3 separate regions of the Homo sapiens genome follow, and regions 1 and 2 are each linked to region 3. Evidence: fine-mapped expression QTL. A gene starts in region 3. Each other region holds a variant in brackets. All regions are shown on one strand. Distances are from middle to middle.

Region 1 (5,279 bases), 84 kb after region 3:
GAGGTTGCAGTGAGCCCAGATCGCACCACTGCACTTCAGCCTGGGGGACAGAGCAAGACTCTGTTTCAAATAAACAAACAAACAAAAAAACCCCCAAAATTAGCCGGGTGTGGTGGCGCGTGCCTGTAATTCCAGCTACTCAGGAGGCTGAGGCACAAGAATTGCTTGAACCCAGCAGGCGGAGGTTGCGGTGAGCCGAGATCGCACCACCACTGCACTCCAGCCTCAAAAAAAAAAAAAAAGTTACAGTGGAATTTGGGAACTCGGGTGGGGAAGAATGGGAAGGAGGTGAGGGATAAAAGACTATAAATTGGTTTCAGTGTATACTGCTCAGGTCCTGGGTGTACCAAAATCTCTCAAATCACCACTCACGTAACCAAATACCACCTATTCCCCAAAAATCTATGGAAATAAAAAATGAGAAAGAAAGAGAATAGGTGAAGACCCAGAAAAAGCAAGGATACTGGTGGGACATTGCCCAAGTCAGTCTTCCTGGCTCTGGTGGGTGAGGGGGCAGAAGCTTAGCCACTGAGAGATGGGAGTGGGGAAGCAGTCATGAAAGGGTGGCTTGAACTCGCCCCAGCTCTCACCAATCCCTTCCCCGCCCTCTCTTGCTCTCTCAGACCTCATTCCAAGCAACAGTTCTGCAGATACTGTTCTCACAACTCCTTCACACTAAAGCTACATGATGGAGAAAGTCTTAACTCATTCCGTTTCCTGTGTATATTTACATCTTAAGAGGAAACACTTTCAACCAGGCATGGTGGCTCATGGCTGTAATCCCAGCAGAGGCAGGAGGATTGCTTGAGCCCAGGAGTTCCAGGCCAGCCTGGGCAACACACCAAGACCCCCGTCTCTTTAAAAAAAAAAAAAAAAAAAAAAGGGCCAGGCATGCTGGTTCATGCCTATAATCTCGGCTCTTTGGGACGCCAAGGCGGGTGGATCACCTGAGGTCAGGAGTTCGAGACCAGCCTGGCCAACATGGGGAAACACTGTCTCTACTAAAAATACAAAAATTAGCCGGGTGTGGTGGCACGTGCCTGTAATCCTAGCTACTCAAGAGGCTGAGGCAGGAGAACCGCTTGAACCCAGGAGGTGGCGGTTGTAGTGATCTGAGATTATGCTACTGCACTCCAGCGTGGGTGACAGAGTCAGATCCTGTCTCAAAAAAAAAAAGGAAAAACTTTAAGAACATGATGACTTAATGGAATTACTTGTTTACAGTAGGATTTTATACCTTGAGCCGGGAGCCGGAAGGAATGCACTTTTGACCAAGGATTGTGGCAGGGGCACATAGAGCCACCGTGGGCTGGGTGCTTCCACCAATGAGGGCCTCTCTCTCGGGGTGTGTATTTGGGGGGCAGGGAAAGAAGGCCTTGATGAAGCCCTGAGGTGGGGTTTGTGCCGGGGGAACCTGCTTTTCCATCCCTCTCTCATTTAACTCCAAGTCCCAAGCCTCCTTTCCTCCCTGTCTTCCTCCCACCCGCTCCAAACAATCTGCCTGTGACTGGTTTTTCTGCTCTCTGTGCTACTTGAACAGGAGGCTGTCAGGAGCTGTTCTGCTCCAACGAGGAGAACCATTGACTCATTTGTGGGTGCTCCTTGTCTTGACCTCGAGTTTTGTTTCAAGCCCTTTGGAGGGTTCCCTCTTTTTTTCTTTTGAGACAAGTTCTCGCACTGTCACCCAGGCTGGGATGCAATGGCATGATCATAGCTCACTGCAGCCTCAATCTCCCAAGTCTCAAGTGATCCTCCTGCCTCAGCCTCCCAAGTAGCTGGGACCACAGGCACGGGTCACCATGCCCAGCTGATTTTTGTGTTTTTTTGTGGAGATGGATTTTTCTCATGTTGCCCAGGCAGGTCTCCGAATCCTGAGCTCAGGCAATCCGCCCACCTCGGTCTCCCAAAGTGCTGGGATTCTAGGCATGAGCCACTGCGCCTGGTCATATGAGAGGGCATTTGAGCAGAGACTGGGGCAAAGTGGAGTGTGAGCCACGTGGATGTCAGGGGAAAAGTATTCAGAAAGATAGGAGAGCCTTGCAAGGGACGTGAACTCCATGTGGGCTGGATGTGTGTGCTGAGTGGATAAATTCCAGGGAGTTTTTGGGCTACAGTTGGGCTGTGGCATGCCACTGAGAAAGTTCTTTTTGTGTTTGTTTGTTTTTGCTTTTTTGAGATGGAGTCTTGCTCTGTCACCCAGGCTGGAGTGCAGTGGCATGATCTTCCCTCACGGCAGTCTCTGCCTCCCAGGTGCAAGCGATTCTCCTGCTTCAGTTTCCCTAGTAGCTGGGATTACAGGCGAGAGCCACCACGCATGGCTAATTTTTGTATTTTCAGTAGAGATGGGGTTTCACCATGTTAGCCAGGCTGGTCTTGAACTTCTGACCTCAAGAGATCCGCCCACCTTGAGAA[CG/C]TTTTTTTTAATTTTCGGTTTCACATCGATCCTTTAAATAGAGGATCAGGCTGTGAACCAGGTCATCAGGACGGGTCATCTGCTTCCCCACGGGTGTGGTTGGGCTGCAGGGACCTTGTTGCTGAGACTAGGAACAGCTCCTTGAGGCAGGTGCTGCATTAGTTTCTGGGGCTGCTGTAGCAAGGTGCCATCAACTGGGAGGCTTAAACCACAGAAATGTATGGTCTCACCGTTCAGGAGTGCTGGGATTATAGGCATGAGCCAAGGATTGCCTTTCCTTGAAAGTGACTCATACGCTCCGCTTTCCTCCACAGTCATTTCACCCTCTCCCTGGTTTGGTAACTGAAGCCTTCTGAAATGAACCAGTGTCAGGCTCCAGTGAGGACTCCATCCCCAATTCAGGAAGCACAGAGGTGGAGCATAATCCCCCCAATTTGTTTATGTGCGGCTGACTTCTCTCAAGATGGTGTGCCTGTTTGGGAAAACTTTTGTTTGCAAGACAATGTGAAAGAAATCCTTAAAGCTCACAGACTGCTGGGTGGATATGACATTCTGGCCCTTGGTTCCCCCAAGAAAACAGCAACTTGCAGATAGCAAGTCAAACTTGTCAGCAGAATCCAGGGATGTTCCTCGAGGCCTGACAAGTTAAGAGCAATCATGGGAAGGCATTCAGAGGACCGCAGCAGAGGATCAGGTCAAGGGAAACCTACCTCCTAAAGGAAAGATCGAGAAGAACCATGCGCCCCACCACCCACCTGGGCTGCTCAGCTGGGCACAGAAGCAGCCAAGGATATTTTCATTCGGATGCTCACATATGACTGAGTTGCCACATGAGGATGATCCGTGGCGATTTTCCACCTTGAGGCAAAGCAGGACAATGCGTGTAAAGAGGTTTGCAGCCCCGGGACCGGGTTTTCAGCTGGTTTTTCTACCCCAAAGTCCAATGCGTGCAGGCTGTCATCAGCACCACAGACAGCACCAGAACCCATCATAATGTCCCAGAAGGTTTTATTGCTAAATTAGTGTCAGAGCTCCAGGGAACACATTCAGATATAGTCACACTGAGTCAGAGCTCGAGGGAAGAGCTGTAAGCTGGGAACCAGAGAACCGATGACAAGGCAGCGGCCTCTTCTGGCAGCTTCCGGAGGAGCCCCCACTTAATGGGACGTCATCACTTGAGGCAGCAGGTAACGTTTACTTGGCACTTAGTATGTTACGGGCACCATTTCCAGTATTCTAGAAACACAATACTCACAGCAGTGGAGGTAACATTGAGGTAGGGGCTGGGTTTTGTTTTTTTTTTGACTCCCACTCTGTTACCCAGGCTGGAGTGCAGTGGTGCAATCATACCTCACTGCAGCCTTGAACTCCTGGGCTCAAGTGATCCTCCCTCCTCAAGTGAGCCTCCCGAGTAGCTGGGACTACAGGTGTTCACTACTGCACCCAGTGAGGGTTGGTGGGGAGGTGTCTCGTTATGTTGCCCAGGCTGGTCTCGAACTTCTGAATCCAAGCGATCCTCCCACCTCAGCCTCCCAAAGTGCTGGGATTATAGGGGCGGGCCACTGTGCCCTTCCAAGGTAGGGGTTATTATTATCGCAATTTTACTGATGAGAAAACTGAGTCCCAGAGAAGTTGGTGACTGCTCAAGGACACAGACAGCTAGGACTTGAATTCAGGCAGCCTGGCCACAGAACCACACCATCAACCGCTATGCTATACTGTGTTTTGTAAAATGACATGATGGCCATGTGATGCAATGTAATGATACAGCAGAGTTTTGTGCTCAGGATGTAAAAATGAGTATGTGCTGCCTTTCAGGGTTATCTGTTGAGTTCTGGCTCATGACCTGAACTATTTTTTCCAAGACCCTTCCTTCTCCCACTGGGAAAGATACTATATTTGGTACCTGAACAAATAGCCTTTAAGATATCAGTTTATGGGTCTTTTTAGAATTTGTGGCTGGGTGCAGTGGCTCATGCCTGTAATCCCAGCACTTTGGGAGGACAAGGCAAGAGGATCACTTGAGGCCGGGAGTTCGAGACCAGCCAAGTCCATGTAGTGAGATCCCATCTCTACAAAAAATTTAAAAGTTAGCTTGGCATGGTGGCATACACCTGTTGTCCCAGCTACTCAGGAGGTGAGATGGGAAGATTGCTTGAGCCCAGGAGTTTGAGGCTGCAGTGAGCCTAGGTGACAGAGCAGGACCTCATCTATTAATTAAAAAAAAAAAAAAAGGAAAAAAGAAAAAAGAATTTGTGTTGAGTGGGATTGGAGAGTTGAAACAGACCAAGAGGTTGTCCAAGGTTGTCCTCAAAGCTGAGAAACAAGACTCAACCCTGGGTCAGTTGCAGTTGAACTTTATTCATCCGTTCACACCTGGGTCCCTCCCGGCCCCCACCTACCCTGGCCTTGCCTACTCAGGGCTTCCAAGATTGGGTGTCGGGGTGGCTTTGCTTATCCTCCAGATGCCTTCTTCCCAGGATGTGATCCGTGCCCTCCAGGATCTAAGGGATGAGGACTAAAGGGGTCTGTTCCTCCTCCAGGCAGCTGGCATGGAACCGTCCGTCTCAGCGGCTGCTTGGTGGTGGCGGTGTGGATGGGTGTGGCTCTCTGTTTGCTGGGGGGTATTCTGCCAGGATGTATAGGAAGCCACCCAGGGCTGCCACTGCTGTGGCTGTGTTGTGGGAGGAGCAGCCATCTAGGGGAGAGAGCCCCCATGAGTGCTGGGTGGCAAGAACCTTGGCCCTTTATTCAACACAGTCTCATTGAAAGTGCTTTTCAGCCAGACGCGGTGGCTCACACCTATAATCCCACACTTTGGGAGCCTGAGGTGGGCGGATCTCTTGAGATCAGGAGTTCGAGACCA
Region 2 (5,521 bases), 190 kb after region 3:
CAGCCTGGCCAGCATGGAGAAACCCCATCTCTACTAAAAATGCAAAAATTAGCCGGGCGTGGTGGTACATATCTGTAATCCCAGCTATTCTGGAGGCTGAGGCAGGAGAGTTGCTTGAACCCGGGAGGCGGAGGTTGCAGTGAGCCGAGATTGTGCCACTGCACTCCAACCTGGACGACGGAATGAGACTCCGTCTCAAAAAAAAAAAAAAAAAAAAAAAATCCTTGTGAAATATTTTGGACTCTTATACTAATTCCAACATTTTGAAGATCTGGGGAGAACAAACTAGATTGGTGCTTTCCTTGGCTTAGTATGTCCTGTTTTTATAGGGAGAGCAAATTATTGTTCACCAGCACTATTAAAGTGGCTACAACAGGATGGGCACGGTGGCTCACACCTGTAATCCCAGCACTTTGGGAAGCTGAGGTGGGAAGATCGTTTGAGCCCAGGAGTTCGAGACCAGCCTGGGCAACATGGTGAGACCCTGTCACTACCAAAAATACAACAACAACAAAAATAGCTAGGTGTGATTGTGTGCACCTGTAGTCCCAGCTACTTGAGAGGCTGAGGTGGGGGGATCACTTGAGCCCAGGGGATTGAGGCTGCAGTAAGCCGTGATTATGCCACTGTACTCAGCCTGGGTGACAGAGTGAGACCCTGTCTCAAAAAAAAAAAAAAAAAAAAAAAAAAACTGCAGTGGACTCAGTGATCATGAGGCCAGGCACTGTACACATGTACATCATCTCATTTAATTTTTCCTCTTGTTTAAAATTATTTTTTCCTCTAATCCCCATGTTGATCAACATTTTTTTAATCCTAGGAATTTATTACTTGAAAATTTCGCATAAGAATTAAAAATTGCCTGGCGCGATGGCTTACATCTGTTATCCCAGCACTTTGGGAGGCTGAGATGAGAGAATCGCTTGAAGCCAGGAGTTTGGGCCAGTCTGGGCAATATACTGAGAATGCAACTCTATAAAAAAATTAAAAACCCTGGGTGTGGTAGCGTTCACCTGTAGTCCCAGCTACTTGGAAGACTAGGTGGGAGGATTGCTTGAGCCCAGGTGGTAAAGGCAGCAGTGAGCTATGATTGTGCCATTGCACTGCAGCCTGGGTGACGGAGTGAGACTCTGTCTCTAAAATAAATGAATAAAATTGTGGTATAATATATGCAACATTTACCATTTTGTACAGCTGTAAGTGTACAATTCAGTGACATTCTGTACAATTATCATGTTGTGCAATTATCACTACTTCCTAGTTTCAGAGCTTTTTCAACACCTCAATTGGAAGCCTCATACCCGATTCAGCAGTCACTCTGCATACCCCCTCCTGCAGCCCCTGGAAACCTCTCATCTACTTTCTGTCTCTGTTGATTGGCTTAGTCTGAGCATTGCATATAAATGAAATTGTACAATATATGACCTTTCATGTCTGCTTCGTTCAGTGAGCAGGTATTTAACGTTCATATCACACCATGGATAAGTTTTATTTTCTTTTTAGACCCTAACTAAAAAGAAAAAAATTGTAAAAAACAAAAACAAAAACAAAAAAAGAATATAGGATGGAGATCAGATGAGTCCTGCAAAGCTGATAATATTTACTGTCTAGCACTTTACATAGAAGCTTGCCTACCTCTGAATGATATGCAGGTACAGGGATGACATTTATCTTGGCACTTATAGAAAGACCTGTACGTTGTATAAAGATGTCATCATTGGATTTCTAGTAACAAGAAGCGGCAAGACATGACGGTGTGTCCAGGTGTTCAGGTGAAGTTTAGGGAAGGTCTTGTCTTGACGAGGTCGGATGTGAGACCCAGATGAGATAACCCCATTTCCCCTGCTGAAATTGCCTGAGAATTTCTTCCAGCTATTTGTGTGGGTAGATTCTTTCGGTGGGGGTGGGGTGGGTGAGGAGGTGAAGTGTCAGGGGAGTTCTATTGTGTATTTGCACAACTTGGCTTTCTTTTCACTTGGTGTGGTGTTTTGCTGTATGAGGAATTTCGTAGAATTTTGTGATGAGTATGCAGCGTAGTGGTTTGAATCCTGCCAGGCCGAGGGTCATATGTCAGCTCTGCAACTCATTATCTGTGACGCCTTGGGGCAGGTCCGATCACTCTCCAAGCTTCTGTTATATATTCCATGGGGTTGTGAGGTTCAGATGAAATAATGCATGCTGGCAGGAATGGTTACTGCTCATGGGATTTCCATGTGCTCCCCGTATTCCCCAGATCTCCAATAGTTAGATGGATCCATGCCAGGGTCCAATGCTCTATAAGTGGAAGTCACTGACATCACCTCTAGTGTACAGCTTTTGAGGGCTTGGGAATAACTATCTCATTCTCTCATCTCCTGGTGCAGTAACTATGGGAGAATCCCTGCATTAAGATGGTAGAATTTCCATCATTCTAGGTCTTTGAGGGGCCATATGGAGGACACCATACCCAGCCAACCCATTGTGGACATGGTATGTAAGAAATCAACCTTGGTTGCTAAGCTGCTGAGACTCTGGGGTTAATTTGTTACTGCAGCATAACGTAGTCCATCCTGACACATGCAGCATGCAAACCACTTACGTTGTCCCTTAGTCATGGTAAGTGCTCCACAGATGTTGGTTACTTTTGGTAGGAAGATAGATTGCCTCTGAAAGTTTTGTTAGCTGATCTCATGATGCCAATGTTGCTATTTTGTAATTGGATAAATTGGACTTGGCTCTCCTTCCAGCATGTGGGAGAGACAGATGACTGAGAGACAATAAAGCACTATTATCTTCAGTTTGTGTCCTTGGATACCCTTGGTGGCAATGAACAATGTATGCTCCTCTGAGAAAACTGGACCTAAAGGAGAATGGGAGGTGATACCAGAATTGGGAATGTCCAAGGCCCCAGGCATTCCCTGGTCTGGAGACCACTTTGAGTCCTTGGTGGGAAGATTCTCAAAGGGAACATAAATGCTTTTACTATCTAGTTTGTCTCTTTGAGAATTAAAACTCT[CTTTTTTT/C]TTTTTTTTCCTTCCAGTAGCTTTTGGGGTAGAGTTTGGCTCTTTGAGAATTGCACACTAATTAATTTTAGGGGTCATGCGTACACATCTCTATATTCCTGAAACAGTAGAAACAGCCAGCAGTCAGGCAACCATCTACCATGACCACTAAAACATCCTCAAAGTGAAACACCAGATGTGATCCGCTAGGTTTAGTGGACGTGGCTGGCTCGAGAGTTGATTATATTCATTATCGTCACTGTGGTGATTGTGGCCACAACATTGTGATGCGTCTTGGTCTTCTTTTGGTGAGTTGCAGTTTGAAAGGAATAAATCCATTATTCTTTTTTTTTTTTTTTTTTTTTTTTTTTTGAGTCTCGCTCTGTTGCCCAGGCTGGAGTGCAGTGGTGCCATCTCAGCATACTGTAAACTCCGCCTCCCAGATTCAAGTGATTCTCCTGCCTCAGCCTGCCAAGTAGCTGGGATTACAGGCGCCAACCACCACACCTGGCTAATTTTTATATTTTTAGTAGAGACGGGGTTTTGCCATGTTGTCCGGGCTGATCTTGAACTCCTGACCTCAGGTGATCCACCTGCCTCAGCCTCCCAAAGTGGTGGGATTACAGGCGTGAGCCACCATGCCTGGCCCCATTATTCATTTAACCAATATCTATTGAGCACGTTCGGTGTGGTGGAGGATGGACTGCAGGGGAGGGAGGAAGCCTCGTCCTGCCACTATGTTTTCAAGTTGTCCTAATACTCCACCATGGGACACACAGGCTTGTGGGTCCCAGAGCTCCAGAAGCATCTCCCAACCATACCATCCTGACCCAGATTCTACCAAAGAATACGTGAGTCTAGCAGAGCCATCTCTGACACTTCCCTTCTTTTGAATGGCTGATCTGTCAGTCATGGGGATCCCTTATGAAAGTGCAGTGTGCTTTGTGAAACTTGAGGTTGATCAAAGAATACCAATAAACTTTGTTAAGAAATCTACATATTGATGACATAGGCAGTGGGGTAGAGGTGGGGAAATTCCCAAATACATTTTAGAAATTATCTCAGAGGGAGGTAATAGTCAGAACTCTTGGTTGCCAGTGACAGAAACTCATCTTACTAGTGTGGAGTGGAAAAGGGATCATGTTTTGGTCTGCACTCCCCAACCCCAACCCCAAGCAGATCCTGAAAGAGGGACAGGATTGCAAGTGGATTATTTAGGAGATGATTCTAGGGAACACCAAAAGGGGAGTGAGGAACTGATTCATGGAAAGGCAGGAGGCCACAGAGGGGGCTTTAATGAGCAGCTTACCATTCCAGGCAACTAGGATTTGACCCCACTGGGGACCTCGGGGAGGTGATGTGGAATACATTTCAAAGTTGTTCCATCCAGGGGGCAAAGATACTGAAGCATTTATAGCCTGGCTCCCATCTGTCACTGGCTGAGGAGTGGTCCCAGGGCATCAACTTTCTGGCTTTTCTTTTTTCTTTTTTTTTTTTTTTTTTGAGACATAGTCTTGCTCTGTCACCCAGGCTGGACTGCAATGGCATGATCTCGGCTCACTGCAACATCTGCCTCCCAGGTTCAAACGATTCTCTTGCCTCAGTTTCCTGAGTAGCTGGGATTACAGGCGCCTGCCACCCTGCCCCGCTAATTTTTTTATTTTTTGTAGAGACGGGGTTTTGCCATGTTGGTCAGGCTGGTCTCGAACTCCTGACCTCGTGATCCACTTGCCTCGGCCTCCCAGTGTTGGGATTACAGGCGTGAGCCACTGCGCCCGGCTTCTGTGGCTTTTCTGACATACTCCATGCCTAACTTTGAGAAGGCCCTCAGGTGAAAGTCTTGGTTGTATGCAGTAGCAAGCATGTACTAGAATGATAAAAACCAGGGGGCTTACCACAAGATCTCTCTCTCCATCTCTGGATGGAGACACCATCAGATCTCTCTCTCCATCTCTGTTTCTAGCTTTGTCTGCATACTGGCTTAATTTCTTCTTACTCAAGCCTTTTCTCCATAAGGCAAGAAATGTGGCCACAAAAGCTCCTGTATTTCTCACTACACACAGTTCCTGTCATCACAGAGAATGATTAACTTGGTCTAGTGCCAGTTTGGAAAAATATTCAAGGGAAGAATTCTGATTGGCCAATTTAGGCCAGATGCTCATCCCTGGACCAATCAACTGAGGCCAGAGGGGTGGAGTCATGTGAGAACATGGCAGCCCCCATGACAGCCAAGTGACTGGAGTAGGAAGTGTGAGTCTCCATAGAGGGGAGGGCTGCTAGGCTGAAAAAGCAATAGATGTCCGCAGTGAAAGGAATAGATTAGGAGACACATTCTGTTAAACCTGTTAATTATTAAAAAAAAAACTTTCAATATACAGTTACAGTATACGTGAGCCGGTGGCTCACGCCTATAATCCCAGCACTTTAGGAGGCCGAGGTGGGCAGATCAGAGGTCAGGAGTTCAAGACCAACCTGACCAACATGGTGAAACCCTGTCTCTACTAAAGAAAATACAAAAATTAGCTGGGCATGGTGGTGCG
Region 3 (5,521 bases):
GCCAATGGAGTGTCAACAAGTGGTAGGAATAATTAGTAGAACAGTAATAATAGGCAACTGGGCCAGGTGTGGTGGCTCATGTCTGTAATCCCAGCACTTTGGGTGGCTGAGGCGGGTGGATCACCTGAGGTCAGGAGTTTGAGGCCAGCCTGGCCAACATGATGAAACCTGTCTCTACTGAAAATACAAAAATTAGCCAGGTGTGGTGGCAAGCGCCTGTAATCCCAGCTACTCGGGAGGCTGAGGCAGGAGAATTGCTTGAACCTGGGAGGCGGAGGTTGTAGTGAGCCGAGACTGCGCCACTGCACTCCAGCCTGGGCAACAGAGCAAGACTCCACGTAAAAAAAAAACCCCAAAACCCAAAAAAAGCTGGAGTGAGTGTTGGTGGCGTTATTAATTCCCTTCCCTGGGGCTGGAGGAGGAGGGAGTGGGGTTCTCACTCCCCTCCAGGCCCCAGTTTCCACTTTGAGCTCTCTGTACCCGCAGGGCTGTCACACCTCTGTCTCCCACGCAGTCATTGTCCTCCCTCAATGTTGGGCAGCAGGAGAGGCGGACTTAACGCCTTTCGTGGTGGTAACAGCAGCTAACGGTGTTAACGTTCACTTTGCTCTGTGGCGATGCCTGGGCAGAGCTGGGCATTTCCTGGATGAGCCCGGGTTAGGACAGTCATCCCTGGATCCCATGTCCCCCACCTACTCACCCTTGTGTTACTCCAGGAGCCATGGGCTATCATTTGCTGCCACCTTGCGACAGGGATGGGAACTTTGTGTCCCATTTCCGCCCTTGATTACCTAAGCCAAGAGTCTGCTGGGCACCTGCTGCCTGCCTGCCAGGTCCCCAGTAAGATCCTTCCCAACATGCGGGCAGCTGAATAAGGCAGCCACTGCCCCTGCCCTCAGGGAGCTCACAGTCTCCTGAGAGAGACCTCCAGGAACCCACAGATATATAAAACGAATAAATGCAATATTAGAATGTGATGCAGGCTAGGAAGGGAAGAGAGGTGATTTTCACAGGGTGCAGTGACATACTTGAAATATATCAGGGGTTGTCCATCTCCCTGGCCACCTCTGACTTCCCCTGCTTGAAGGGGTGAATTCACCCCACGGTGGCACGTAGTAGGTGCTCAGTAAATGTTGAATGAGTGAATACATGGATGACAGCACTGTCCAGAGCCAATTTCTTGGGTCTTGTAGGCTAAACAGATGAGGAGTGGCAAGGCAGGACTTCTGGGAGCAAGGTTGGTCCCCTGGGAGTCCTGGGAGGGCTGAAAGGGGTTAAGTGTGAGTTAAAATGAGAGTGATGGACAAATGTCACTCTCCCAAGGGAGGCCCCCTTACTCCCTGTTTTATTTATTTATTTACTTATTTATTTTGAGACCGAGTCTTGCTTTGTTGCCCAGGCTGGAGTGCAGTGGCCAGGTAACAGCTCACTGCAGCTTTGAACTTCTGGGCTCAAGGGATCCTCCTGCCTCAGCCTCTTGAGTAGCTGGGACCACAGGCACGTGCCAACACGCCTGGCTAATTTTTTTTTTTTTTTTTTGCGACGGAGCTTTGTTCTTCTTGCCCAGGCTGGAGTGCAGTGGCGCAGTCTCGGCTCACTGCAACCTCCGCCTCCTTGATTCAAGCGATTCTCCTGCCTCAGCCTCCCGAGTAGCTGAGATTACAGGTATACGCCACCATGCCCGGCTAATTTTGTATTTTAGTAGAGACGGGGTTTCCTCATATTGGCCATGCTGTTCTCGAACTCCTGACCTCAGCTGATCTGCCTGCCTTGGCCTCTCAGTGTGCTGGGATTACAGGCGTGAGCCACCGCGCCCTGCCTAAACTAAAAAAAAATTTTTTTGTAGAGATAGGTTCTTGCTATGTTACCCAGGGTGGTCTCCAACTCCTGGGTTCAAGCGGTCCTCCCGCTTCCGCCTCCTAAAGTGTTTGGATTACAGGCGTGAGACATGGCGCCCGGCCTCTTACCTGTTTTAAATTGTCCTTTCTCTCCGCTGGCTCCTTGAGCCCCTTTCCTGCTTATTTTTCTCTCGTTAGAGTTTTTCACTACCTCACACATCATATATTTGCCTTATTTATTGAGTGTCTGTCTCCCCACCGTAGTATAAACTCCACGAGGGCAGGGATTCGTGCGTGTGGCTCACCGGCGGCTCTCCAGCGCCTGGACAGGGCTGACCCCCAGCAGGCGCTCTGTGAAGGTGTGCAGAGTGGGCGAAGGTGCATGCGCGGGCCGTGGGGCGGGGACAGGTGGAGGAGCCAGTCAGACCCAAGTGCAGCGGGACGAGGGCGAGGTTAATCTGAGCAAGAAAAGCGTAAATTCTGCTTATCTACAAATGTAAACAGTACTGTCGGCCAGACGCAGGGTCCGGGGCGGGTCGGCCCGGACTCAGGGTCTGCTTGGAGGCAGAGCTAGATTAGGGCGGGGTCGTCCTGTGGCCTACCATTCCCCGAGGCTGAGGGCCTTGGAGGGCGGGGCCAGTGAAGGGGGAGGGGACTTCCTGAGGTGTGACCAATCTAGAGAAAGGACTGGGCTGAGGGCGTGGTCAAACAAGCGACATCTAAAAATAAGGGGCGGGGCTAGAACCAGGGGGAGTTCGCCTGGGGCGGGGCCAGAGTGGGGCGGGACCAGTTAGGGGGCAGGGCCAACCTGGGCGGGGCCATGGCCGGGGACGTGGGCGGGACCAGGTCAGGGGCGGGGCCAGGCCAGGATCTCCGCTGTCCCGGGTCCTGGAGCTCTCTCGGCCCGGCAGGTTTCGCTCCCGCCCCTCCGGCCTTCCACAGCTGTCCTGGCCGCAGGGTGTTCAAGGCGGGACACACCAGGCTAGAGATCCGCGATCGGGCCCCGCCTCAGGTACTGCGCTCCAGGCCAGGCGGGCGCGGGTAAGCGCTCAGCTCCCGAGCCAGGCGGGCTTCCAGGGCACTTCCCCTAGGCTGCATTCCCAAAGGCTCCCGAGGGCGAGGGTGAGCAAAGCTGCGGGGACCTGTGTGTGCATGCGTGTGCGATTGCCTCTACGTGTGTGTACGTGTGTGTGCATGTGCGCACGGGTGTGTGTGCGTGTGTGCACGTCTGTGCACACCAGGGGAATTGCGTGCGTGGAGCTGGGCAGGTGCGTGTTTCAGGGTGTGTGTGCAAAGTTGGAGGCGTGTGCAAAAGCAGTCCCGTGTGGGAGGGAAACCTGCGTGTGTACATGTGTGTGATAGAGACAGTGCCTGTGAAATGTGGTGAAGGCTGTGTGTGTATGTCAGGGTGTCTGGGAGGAAAATGGGAGGGCAGGTGCAAGGAGACTCGGGGGTGGGCTGTAGGCCAGCAAGTCTGTGGCAAGCTGCGGGGTGCATGCGTGAATAGAACCGTGGGAGTGTAAGAATTGCAAATGTGTGTGTGTCTGTGTGGGTGGCCGTAAGGCTTCTGGGGGCCCTCAGTGTGAAGGGGTGGGGGTAGAGGAAAGTTTGGGGGTGCTGACTGCTCTTGGAAGGCTGAGCGTGGTCTGGGGCCATGGCTAATGACAGGGAAGCTGTTGGGGCTTGGCCTGGAGTAATTTGGGGGGAATATCAGCCTTCTCAATTTGAAGGCTGGGGAGCTGTGTGGGTGGGGCCAGGGGCTGCCCCTTACACTTGGTGGGTGGTGTCCCTGCTTCCCGAGGTGGGAGCTGCAACCTCACCAGTCACTCCTCGCCCCAGGCTCTGTGCACACCCCTGCCTGGTGACCTCCATTGGTGCTCCAGCGTGAACATGGTGCAAAGATACCAGTCTCCTGTCCGAGTCTACAAGTACCCGTTTGAGCTGGTCATGGCGGTGAGTGACTCCTGATTCTTGGGCCCCCATGTGACAGTTGGAGGGGCTTGAGATCAGCTATGGCGGTAGGAAGACGGAGCTCCTTAGACTCCCAGATCAGAAGGAATTAGTGAGTTACTCAGCTGACCTGGTGGGTTTAACTTCTATCCAGTGACCTCTCTGTCCAACCATCCTATCCTCGGCCCAGTGACCAAAACACAAAGTCTTTCTTCCTTCTCCTTGTTGAAGCTGACCTGCTCCCTTACTTTAGACTCTCCTGATAGAAAACAAAGGTATCAGGGGCCAAGCCACTGCTGTCATTTCATATAATGGCATATCACAGTGATAAATGGAATGGTGGTGATAATGACAACAGCTGTTTATTGAATGTTTACAGCACTGTCTTAACAGATGATGTTTCTTCCAATTCCCGATAGCTGTTATTTTCCCATGTAACCTCCATGAAACTGAGGCTTTGACAGGTGAAGGGATGACACTAAGTTCTGTATCTACGCAGAGGTGGAGTCGGGGCTGAGATCCCCACAAAGGAGACTCTAGAACCTCACATTTGACCACAGAGCCCTCCTTCTGCTCACAGACCCCCTTCCCTCCCCTTTAAGGAAGCTGACACTGGGACGAGAGAGAGAATGAGTGGGTAGGTTTGCTTTGTGATGTACTCTGTGTTGTGCAGCAAGTCAGTTGGAGGCCTAGAATTGGCTGCCAGATCCTTGGCCCCCAGGATCACTGGTCTTTTCACCCTGGGGGCAGAAGCTGGACATAGGTGGATGTGGAATTCCTTCTTGGCTGCATCCCTCTGCCTCTGAGCACTTCACTTCCCTGCTCAGTAACATGGGGACAATGCTACAAGGTTGCGGGGAGGAGTAAATGAGATAGTTCTTGGTGCTCCTTGCTGTGTGCCGGGCACACAGTAGGAGCTCACAAAATATGCTGTCGCTGTTATTACACCGAAGTCTTGTAAATTAATGTATTGAAAGTGTAAGAAACATTAGCATCCACCCCCATCTGTCCCACCCCAGCACTGACTGCTTAACCCCAGCCTTCTATCCAGGGACTTTCATATCTCTTGGTGGCTGTGTGTGCCTGTGTGTCCAGTCCTGTCTTATTCTATGAATCTACATGCGTATATGTTTATTGTCACACAGAGGATTTAAAAGCATCACCAAAATCATCCACATACCTTGTGCTGTTACAGGCAGATGGTTCTAGGACAGCAAAGAGGCAGGAACTGGCTTAGGGTCATATTCTAGCTCCCCAATTGACGAGCTGAGTGACTGTGGGGCAAGTCACTTCACCTCCATGAGCCTCCACTCCCCATCACCAATGGGAATCTCCTGGCTTCCAAATCCTGGTGTCATGCTGTGGATTAAATGAGTCAATGTGTATAAAGCTCCTGGTACGGGGCTGACGCAGATCAAATGCTCACTGAGATCCAGCTATGATCGTTACTGTTTTTGCAAGTGCCTGAGTGACTTTGCTTCTGCGTAATGGGAGTGGAACACCAGGGGATGGTGAAGAGATCCAGGGACGTGAATTCAGATGCTTTAGGGTTCTGCTGTGCTCTGCCATGCTCTGGTTGTATGTTTTTAGAAAGTTGCTGAACTTAAGCCGGGTGCAGTGGCTCACACCTGTAATCCCAGCGCTTTGGGAGGCCGAGGTGGGTGGATCACAAGGTCAGGAGATCAAGACAATCCCGTGTAACACGGTGAAACCCCAACTCAACTAAAAATACA

Evidence for each region. PIP is the estimated chance that this variant, and not a neighbour inherited with it, causes the effect.
Region 1: its variant is fine-mapped to the expression of SEC14L5 in sun-exposed skin (GTEx, PIP 0.92).
Region 2: its variant is fine-mapped to the expression of SEC14L5 in whole blood (INTERVAL, PIP 0.91).

Annotation. Positions count from the first base shown.
Region 1 is chr16:5,039,368-5,044,646 of GRCh38, forward strand. It overlaps C16orf89 (chromosome 16 open reading frame 89), which reads right to left. Exons shown (of 8, transcript NM_001098514.3): 8 at 4,755-5,111. The coding sequence ends at 4,981. NAGPA-AS1 (NAGPA antisense RNA 1) reads left to right here. Exons shown (of 2, transcript NR_038913.1): 2 at 2,728-3,604. Among named protein-coding and RNA genes, the nearest start is that of NAGPA, 8.1 kb to the left of the region's middle. The variant CG/C (reference allele first, on the strand shown) is at 2,413.
Region 2 is chr16:5,149,058-5,154,578 of GRCh38, forward strand. No RefSeq gene overlaps it. Among named protein-coding and RNA genes, the nearest start is that of EEF2KMT, 54 kb to the left of the region's middle. The variant CTTTTTTT/C (reference allele first, on the strand shown) is at 2,996.
Region 3 is chr16:4,955,596-4,961,116 of GRCh38, forward strand. It overlaps SEC14L5 (SEC14 like lipid binding 5), which reads left to right and starts at 2,735. Exons shown (of 16, transcript NM_014692.2): 1 at 2,735-2,850; 2 at 3,678-3,791. The coding sequence starts at 3,729. RefSeq lists silencers at 2,620-2,829, 2,628-2,923 and an enhancer at 2,727-3,262.